Homo sapiens: one gene and its partners. The protein of the gene in region 1 purifies or fractionates together with the protein of each later gene. This does not show direct contact. Each region holds a gene or a part of one and is shown in the gene's direction. Other genes may lie near its edges.

Region 1 (2,691 bases):
AATGTAATTTTGAAATTGTAGGATCCATGATGACCTTAAAAGAACTGTAGATCTTTGTCAAAAGGCTGAAGCAACAGGAGTTTCATGGATTACAGTCCATGGAAGAACTGCTGAAGAAAGACATCAGCCAGTGCACTATGATTCCATTAAAATAATTAAGGAAAATATGTCTATACCTGTAATTGCTAATGGAGACATCAGAAGCTTAAAGGAAGCAGAAAATGTGTGGCGGATTACTGGGACAGATGGTAAGAAATAAGTACTTGGGTTCTTTTAATTGGGGGGGGAAGAAATGAGAGTGGGGAAGTAATGTTAATTTGATTTTCATTTGTTTTGTTTAACATTAAGCCATATTTTCCCATTGTACTGTTTTAAGCTAAGCGATTTATTAAAATGATGTTAAGTTTTCTACCTAGAAAAACATGGATTATCTTAACTGGGATAAATTAATTCAGTTACTTTTCTGACACCATCATATCTAGTGACCAGTGAAGAATTTTCCAGATAGCCTACTAGTAAAATAAAGCACCTAGAAATAAGAGTAAGTGAACTCGAGAATGATAAGAGCTAAAGGAATCCCAGAACTGCTATGCAGTTTCATTATTCCCTTAAATTATTGGCATGCCAAGCCCTATAATTGCTAGATGGGAGAATATAGATAAACTGAACTTTAAGCAGCCCAATTTATGACAATCCAGATTTACCCTAAAGAAAAACTAAAGACTAATGGTTTAATGTAGAAATCTTTAAAAAATAAAGATTTCTGTACGTACATTTAAACTTTCCTGGTTTACAAAAGGTACCAAAATTAATTCTTTTGTAATCGGATTAAACATATTAATGCAATAAAGACATTACAAAACCTTGTGATAATACTTTTTAAAAATATACTGTTTGCTTCATTGAGCTTGAACTAATAACCAGGGGTTCTTAATGTATGGACAAATATGGTGTGCTTTAATTTGTAGGTGTGATGGTTGCAAGAGGACTCTTAGCAAACCCGGCCATGTTTGCTGGATATGAGGAAACCCCACTGAAATGCATCTGGGACTGGGTTGACATTGCTCTTGAACTCGGGACTCCTTACATGTGTTTCCATCAACATTTAATGTACATGATGGAAAAGATAACTTCAAGGCAGGAAAAAAGGGTATTTAATGCTCTGTCAAGCACATCAGCAATCATAGATTACCTTACAGACCATTATGGCATTTGACTAGACTTCCCAAATAATTTTAATATATACTTTTAGACCCACAGTGAAACCACAGAAGGTCATATTTTGTACCTTAAACCAGTAGCTCTCAAATTTTAGTATAAAAACAATTCCTGGGAGCGTTTTTTAAAAATCAGTTGTAGACACCACCCTCAGAGATTCTGATTAGGTAGATCTGGAGTAGACCCAGAAATACACAGTTTAAAGAAAACTCCCAGTGGTTCAAACATCCTGATCATCCTAGGCAAACATTGACAAATACTGCTCTGAATCCTGTTCTATAGATATTGGGGGGATGGGTAGAGTGGGAATTTTTTCCTAATCATGTTTTTAACATTTTAAAATAAAATTTAATACTAAGAAATTATGGCTTATAGTATCTATAAATTAACAAGAAGTATGCAGGTGCAAAAAAGTGGTGGAACAAATACCAACATCCATCCAAAATGAAAAAGAACAGGAAATTCTGAATAGAATTGCACTCAGAACTTATATTAAAAATTCCATTTGGTTAATGACATTAAATTTGGTACATTTCAAAACTTCTAGGTCCTCCAAAGATTGAAAGCTTAATAATCTCCTACCTAAAAAGATAAAATTAATTGCAATCTACCATATCTTAAGTATAGGAAATTTGGTGTCCAACCTGGAGATGATTATATATTTGAAATATTTCCTAGAGAATAGTAACCAGGTTTTGTTTTTAACTTTAAAACCTAATTACTTTTGTGCCTCTCAGCCGTTGATTGTAACTTTAAAGTCCCATGGTTTTGGAGTGTTATTAATAGATTTTGTTATCGGTGGGCATGCACTGCAAGAATTAAGTATCTCAGACTGAAATAAAACCGTTCATAATTAAAGTATTATTTTGTTTTGCCAACATGAAAACTGTTATAAGGAAACAATTATGTAAAACTGTTTAATTCACGTTTGGGAATATTGAATGAATCCATTTTAACATAAGCACTGTGGTGCCATCTTTTTTCTCAGTACATTCTGTTTTCACTTTTCAGTTAATGCATTTTTTTTTTTAAAGATAACTCGCTGTTTCATTTTCTATGAATACTGTACAAAATAGGGAGGTATGGTCAGAACTCTGAATTGAATTACCCTAGTGTTGTGAGCACAGCATCATCACTAGAGTAATGTGCTCGGTGTTTGGAAGGAACCAGCGTGGATGGGCAAGAAGTTCTAACACTTTTGATTAAAAGTAACTTCCTGGCCGGGCGCGGTGGCTCACGCCTGTGATCCCAGCACTTTGGGAGGCCAAGACGGGCAGATCACGAGGTCAGGAGATCAAGACCATCCTGGATAACACGGTGAAACCCCGTCTCTACTAAAAATACAAAAATTAGCTGGGCGTGGTGGCGGGCGCCTATAGTCCCAGCTACTCAGGAGGCTGAGGCAGGAGAATGGTGTGAACCTGGGAGGTGGAGCTTGCAGTGAGCTGAGATTGCGCCACTGCACTCCTGCCT
Region 2 (3,664 bases), on another chromosome or scaffold:
AATGGTACCTTAACTGTTCTACTCATTATACCATTGCCATTTTAAAGGATTATACTGGGAATAAGTAGTATTATACTGAGAATAATTCTATTATCTCTGTTTGACTATATAATACATTCATCATATAAAATTACAACTTAAAGTATATGAACTGGACATATATTTGGAAACTCTTTTTGACTGCTGAACTATTTCAGCATTTTAATTGTCAGCAATAAATTCGCTATGTTTGAACTATTTGATACTTTCCTTAAATTTCCCAGTCTTGTGCTTTTGAATAAATAAACTCCATAAAGACAGGGTTCTGGTCATATTTTCCCTACTTGACAGGTAGATATTAGGAATATATAAACATTTGATAAATGTTTCGTATGGATGAATTAACTATCCCATTTTCAATTTTTAGTCTAAATATTTAGACTGTATTTTTTCATATATTGAGTTCTACCTAGCTTTGAGGGATCAGGTGCAACATCTGACTTAGGTATACTGCTCCTGGAACCCAACTACTGAACTTACATCTACAGCCATATCCTTTTTTGATGGGCCTCATAATTAATAATGCTCTATGAAAAACACCTGATTAAAGGTTTCTGCAGTGTTCTTATTTATAGGATGAAGTATTCTAAACAGTAAGGATTAAATCATCAATTAATTTGGGGAAATTCTGGTTTCTGTCTTCATACATACAGACACATGCATCACAGTAATACCAACAACTTTAACTTTTGTATGCACACTGCTTCTACTTTTCCACACAGCAACTGTGATGTGGGCATGACACAGCTACCTTTGTATTATAGATAAGTAAGTGGAGACTCAAATTGAGTAACTGAACAAATAGGACTTGAAGTTGGATATCATTTTAAAATCTTGCTGCCTAACGAAGGGCAATTGATTTTTGTTAATTCTCTACCTGATGCTCTTGTAATTTAATTAGGACATTCAGCTTTCTACCGCTAATGCTACCTAATTCAGTTAAGGGAAGAATGCTGCTTAGTATTTTGTAATTTCTATTAGAACAGCTGCAGTTTTGTAAGGGGTTCTTTTGCCAAAAATCCATTAGAATGTGAGTGTTAATAATATTTCTTAGAAGTAGTTTAGAAAAGTTTTTTGTTTTGTTGTTTCTTGGATCTCTTATGAAGAGTAGGTTTTAAATTTGCCTCCTTGATCCTTCATCATAGCTACATTTTGCATTTGTGCCAATGTTTGTGATGGTTCCAAAGGAATTACTTATTTTTGTCAAAAACAGGATGAGGTACTAAATCATAATGAGAATACTCAACCTATTTCATTTCCATTGTGATTTCTTGTTTGCATTTTAAAACTTTATTTTCTGTAGTAAGTTCAGGCAAGACTTGTTTGGGCAGTAATCAGAAGAATAGCAGCAAGATACAGGGGGACTCTAGAATTTTGCTAGGGGTAATGGTGGGGGAAAATATATTTTCCCCTTCCAGTTAAAGCTTCAGTATTATTTATAAATAATCTCCTCCCAAAACAGCATGAGTGGGGATGTTTTCGAGACTTTTCTGAACACATTTTAGGCATTTTTCTAACTGTTTAACTGTTTTTCTAACTGTTTAAAATAGAAGTACAATGACTCTTATGAGATTGTCTTGAACCATTATAGAACAGGGTAATTGTGCTATTCTTCAGAAGTGGAAGAAATTATTTCTGTGGTATGATATTTTGTAATATGCCTTTGTTGTCAGTAATTATCTCTAGAATTTTGTAGTTAATTATAGAGTAATGTTTCAAAGAATGCATATGTCTTGATTGGCCTAGAACAGTCAATTGACATTTTAATATGCTTTTATACAACTGCACATTAAATTAGGTCATAATTATTTTTAAACAGGATGGTGAAGTGGATGCTGAAGAACTTCAGAGATGTTTGACACAGTCTGGAATTAATGGAACTTACTCTCGTGAGATCTTTTTTCCCCTTTTGTTGAAATTATAATAGGAAGTTTATTTTCTTACTTTTTTTGTCCCTGTAATTAAAATGTTTAAAAAATTATCACAGTTATACATGCACATAGTTTAAGGAGTCAAATAACTGTAAAACTCGTTATGAAAATAACTGTTCATTGTGTATTCCTGTCTCCTTAACATTAACTGCTCATAGAGGACACTTCTTTTGACTTTTAAAAATCTGATTCTTTTGAAATTTGCTTCCAGATTTCAAGATAGAATATTTTTTTCACGATTGATTTTTGGATTTTATGATTATCTATTGATATCCTGCTATGAAAGATGAGGATTTCACTTTATTTTAACCTTAAACTCTCCCCTGTCTCTGCACTCCACAGAGGAACATTTCCCATCCTCCTGTCCTTCCAATGTAGTTATAATATATAGTAACTTTTGTTAGGTATGTTAGTCTTTACCTTATTTTTACTATCTGAATGCTGCTTATAGCTGTATCTTATGATAATGTATGATTACTTTTCCTTTTTATATAATGTTTTGCTTTTCTTGAAATCACTAGTTGTCAGGTATTATCCTAGAACTCTGGGATATGCAGTTTTTTATGTGTAGCTGTCATACTGGGATTCTTTCACCATCATTCTGAAGCTGGTTTCCCCGTTTCTCTTGAGTTAGATCTCCTTTTTACTCCATCTCTTGTTGTCCTCTTTTAAAAAATTCATTATCTTATTTTAGTGAAATGTATAGTTAAGCAGCTTCTTAATATAAAAAAAAAATACGGCCAGGCGCCGTGGCTCATGCCTGCAATCCCAGCACTTTGGGAGGCTGAGGTGGGCGAATCATGAGGTTAAGAGATCGAGAGCACCCTGGCCACCATGGTGAAACCCCGTCTCTACTAAAAATACAAAAATTAACTGGGCGTGGTGGCACGCACCTGTAGTCCCAGCTACTCGGGAGACTGAGGCAGGAGAATTACTTGAACCCAGGAGGCAGAGGTTCCAGTGAGCTGAGATTGGGCCACTGCACTCCAGCCTGGTGACAGAGTGAGACATCATCTCAAAAACAAACAAAAGAATATATGGGAGATAAATTTTTGAGAGCTTATGTATCTAAAAATGCTTTCATTCTACCTTCAGAATTGATTGGCCAGGTATAGAATTCTAGGTTACAAATGATTCTCAAGTAGAATTTTAAAGGTATTGCTCCATTGTTTCTAGCGTCCCTTGTTGCATTATCTTTCTCTTTCCTGCCTGGATGTGATGTGATTTGTTATTCCTCTCTGGAAACTTGTGAGATCTTTGTCTTTAGTATTCTGCGATTTGATGGTAAAGTACCTAGTTGTGTTGTGTGGGGAACTCAGATGGTATTCTCAGCCTGGAAACTCCTTTGCTTTAGATGTAGGACGTTTTCTTCAATGATATTTTCTGTTTCTTGGAATGCTTTTTGTTTTCACTGGGTTTTCTACTTTTATCATCTTTTTCCTCCTATCATTTTTTTTTGCTGAACTTTTTGGGAATTTTCCTCAACTTTATTTCCTAAACCTTCTATTGAGTCTTTCATTTCTGCTTTTCATTAATATCCAAGAGCTTCTGTTCTATTTTCATGAATGTGATATTGTCCCTTATCTCTCTGAGACTATTAATATATTTTTAAAGTTTTTTCTTCCTATATAACCTTTGTTTTTTCCAGATTGTTTTTTCTCCTCATTTTGCTTGTTTTGGTTGTCTTTCATGTT
Region 3 (2,525 bases), on another chromosome or scaffold:
CCACCTCCCGCAGTCCACGTGGGCTACTGCTGAAGATCCTCTGCCATCCAGGCCCTTCCTCCTCTCTTGCTAGAGAGGCCTGGCACCTTTCTAGCAAGGTCACGTGTTGACTGATGTGGGCAGAGGGGCAGTGGGACATGTCTGGGGACATGTGGTTTCTCAGCAGACAGAGACTTCCTCCTCCTCCTCCTCCTTGTCCTCATGCAAGGGGCGAGCACTCGCCTTAAACTTGTAGACACCACAGTTCTGGAGGGGGCACTCCTTCCTGGGCCAGCCCAGCCTGCCAGAGGCATCCTCTTATTGACACAGCGTGGAGGGGGGCTAACTAGGGGTCTTTTCCTCCCCACCCACCCCTCACCTGCCTTTCTCCACAGACCCTCACTCTCTTTGCTATGACATCACCGTCATCCCTAAGTTCAGACCTGGACCACGGTGGTGTGCGGTTCAAGGCCAGGTGGATGAAAAGACTTTTCTTCACTATGACTGTGGCAACAAGACAGTCACACCTGTCAGTCCCCTGGGGAAGAAACTAAATGTCACAACGGCCTGGAAAGCACAGAACCCAGTACTGAGAGAGGTGGTGGACATACTTACAGAGCAACTGCGTGACATTCAGCTGGAGAATTACACACCCAAGGGTAAGTTTCAGATGGCCCAGGACAGCAGGGAACAGATACAGTGGTAGGTTAGAGGCATTTATAGTTTTCATGTAAAAATACAAAAGGGTCCTGGGCACGGTGGCTCACGCCTGTAGTCCCAGCACTTTGTGAGGTAGAGGTGGGCCGATCACAAGGTCAGGAATTCGAGACCAGCCTGACCAACATGGTGAAACACTGTCTCTACCAAAAATGCAAAAATTAGCCAGGCATGGTGGCGCATGCCTGTAATCCCAGCAACTTGGGAGGCTGAGGCAGGAGGATCCCTTGAACCCGGCAGGCAGACGCTGCAGTGAGCCGAGGTGGTGCCACTGCACTCCAGCCTGGGCAACAGAGTGAGACTTTGTCTCAAAAAAAAAAAAAAAAAAAAAGCCAGGTGCAGTGGCTCAAGCCTGTAATCCCAGCATTTTGGGAGGCTGAGGCAGGCGGATCACGAGGTTAAGAGATCGAGACCATCCTGGTTAACACAGTGAAACCCTGTCTGTACTAAAAATACAAAAAATTAGCCGGGTATGGTGGCGGGCGCCTGTAGTCCCAGCTACTTAGGAGGCTGAGTGAGCCGAGATCGCGCCACTGCACTCCATCCAGCCTGGGTGACAGAGCGAGACCCTTTCTCAAAAAAAAAAAAAAAATACAAATGGGAAGGTCATCATACCCCTCAAGAGTCTAGAGGCAAGGCCAAGATGTAGCAGAGAGAGTAAGGCCAGCAAATTGTAAGGGGAACAGGATGGGGGTGCAAAATTTGTCAAGATCAGAGCTGATCTCTCTCTGATGGGGGCAGAACCCCTCACCCTGCAGGCAAGGATGTCTTGTGAGCAGAAAGCTGAAGGACACAGCAGTGGATCTTGGCAGTTCAGTTTCGATGGGCAGATCTTCCTCCTCTTTGACTCAGAGAAGAGAATGTGGACAACGGTTCATCCTGGAGCCAGAAAGATGAAAGAAAAGTGGGAGAATGACAAGGTTGTGGCCATGTCCTTCCATTACTTCTCAATGGGAGACTGTATAGGATGGCTTGAGGACTTCTTGATGGGCATGGACAGCACCCTGGAGCCAAGTGCAGGAGGTAACAGGAGAAAAAGAAACGGGGATCTCAAATGTGATCAGAAATGGTGACCTCAAGAAGTTAGTTCTTGAGTTCAGCTTCAATCATCCCAGTATACACATTCACGTTAAAATGACCTCCTCGTGGGGCGCTCCTCCTGGGGTTACTGGCATGCCTGTGCTCTCCCACCGTCCTCTTCCTTCTCCCTCCTGACTCCTATTCCTCACTGCACTTGCTCCTGCTCCCCGCCCTGTGGATTTCTCACCAGCCTTGAAACTGCAGGTGTCACTGTTTTCAGACCTTTTTCCTTAGTGTTTCCTCTTTTGAGAATCACTTTTCCTTTCCTTTCCCTGGTCTGGTTCTGGAAATCCATCAAAACCACTTCCAACGCCAGCCCAGAGATCCTCCCCTCCCCAACTCTGGGGCATCACCTCCTCTTCCCCCACAGCAGGAGGGTGGGGTGTGTTGTCACCTTGCTTCCCTCAGCAGCTGTGTGAGCTCCCTGAGGACAAGACTCACCCCGTCTCCCTTCCTAAGCCAGGACCTGTCATACTGGCTGCCCCACACCAGGGGGGAGAGGACAAAACTTTTGCCTTCCAGGATGACCTAGGGTGGCAGGAACTGAGGAGGTGTCTCCTCAGATTTGGGGCCTGGACAAGGGTTGTCACTTTTGTGTTTCCATTTCAGCACCACTCGCCATGTCCTCAGGCACAACCCAACTCAGGGCCACAGCCACCACCCTCATCCTTTGCTGCCTCCTCATCATCCTCCCCTGCTTCATCCTCCCTGGCATCTGAGGAGAGTCCTTTAGAGTGACAGGTACTGTG

The links.
Region 2: the proteins of DUS4L (region 1) and GCA purify together in Homo sapiens (affinity purification with mass spectrometry; 2 studies listed by BioGRID and IntAct, with this or other methods). This does not show direct contact.
Region 3: the proteins of DUS4L (region 1) and ULBP2 purify together in Homo sapiens (affinity purification with mass spectrometry; one large-scale study listed by BioGRID and IntAct). This does not show direct contact.

What each region holds. Positions count from the first base shown.
Region 1 is NC_000007.14:107,576,345-107,579,035, forward strand, and holds the end of DUS4L (tRNA-dihydrouridine(20a/20b) synthase [NAD(P)+]-like), read left to right. Parts: intron 1-21; coding exon 22-248; intron 249-968; coding exon 969-1,216; 3' UTR 1,217-2,179; downstream 2,180-2,691. Other genes in the region: DUS4L-BCAP29 protein, read left to right, coding at 22-248. UniProt on the Homo sapiens protein: Catalyzes the synthesis of dihydrouridine, a modified base found in the D-loop of most tRNAs.
Region 2 is NC_000002.12:162,350,480-162,354,143, forward strand, and holds part of GCA (grancalcin), read left to right. Parts: intron 1-1,858; coding exon 1,859-1,928; intron 1,929-2,932; exon of another isoform or gene 2,933-3,254; intron 3,255-3,664. UniProt on the Homo sapiens protein: Calcium-binding protein that may play a role in the adhesion of neutrophils to fibronectin. May play a role in the formation of focal adhesions.
Region 3 is NC_000006.12:149,944,935-149,947,459, forward strand, and holds part of ULBP2 (UL16-binding protein 2 preproprotein), read left to right. Parts: intron 1-374; coding exon 375-638; intron 639-1,437; coding exon 1,438-1,719; intron 1,720-2,385; coding exon 2,386-2,495; 3' UTR 2,496-2,517; exon of another isoform or gene 2,518-2,522; intron 2,523-2,525. UniProt on the Homo sapiens protein: Binds and activates the KLRK1/NKG2D receptor, mediating natural killer cell cytotoxicity.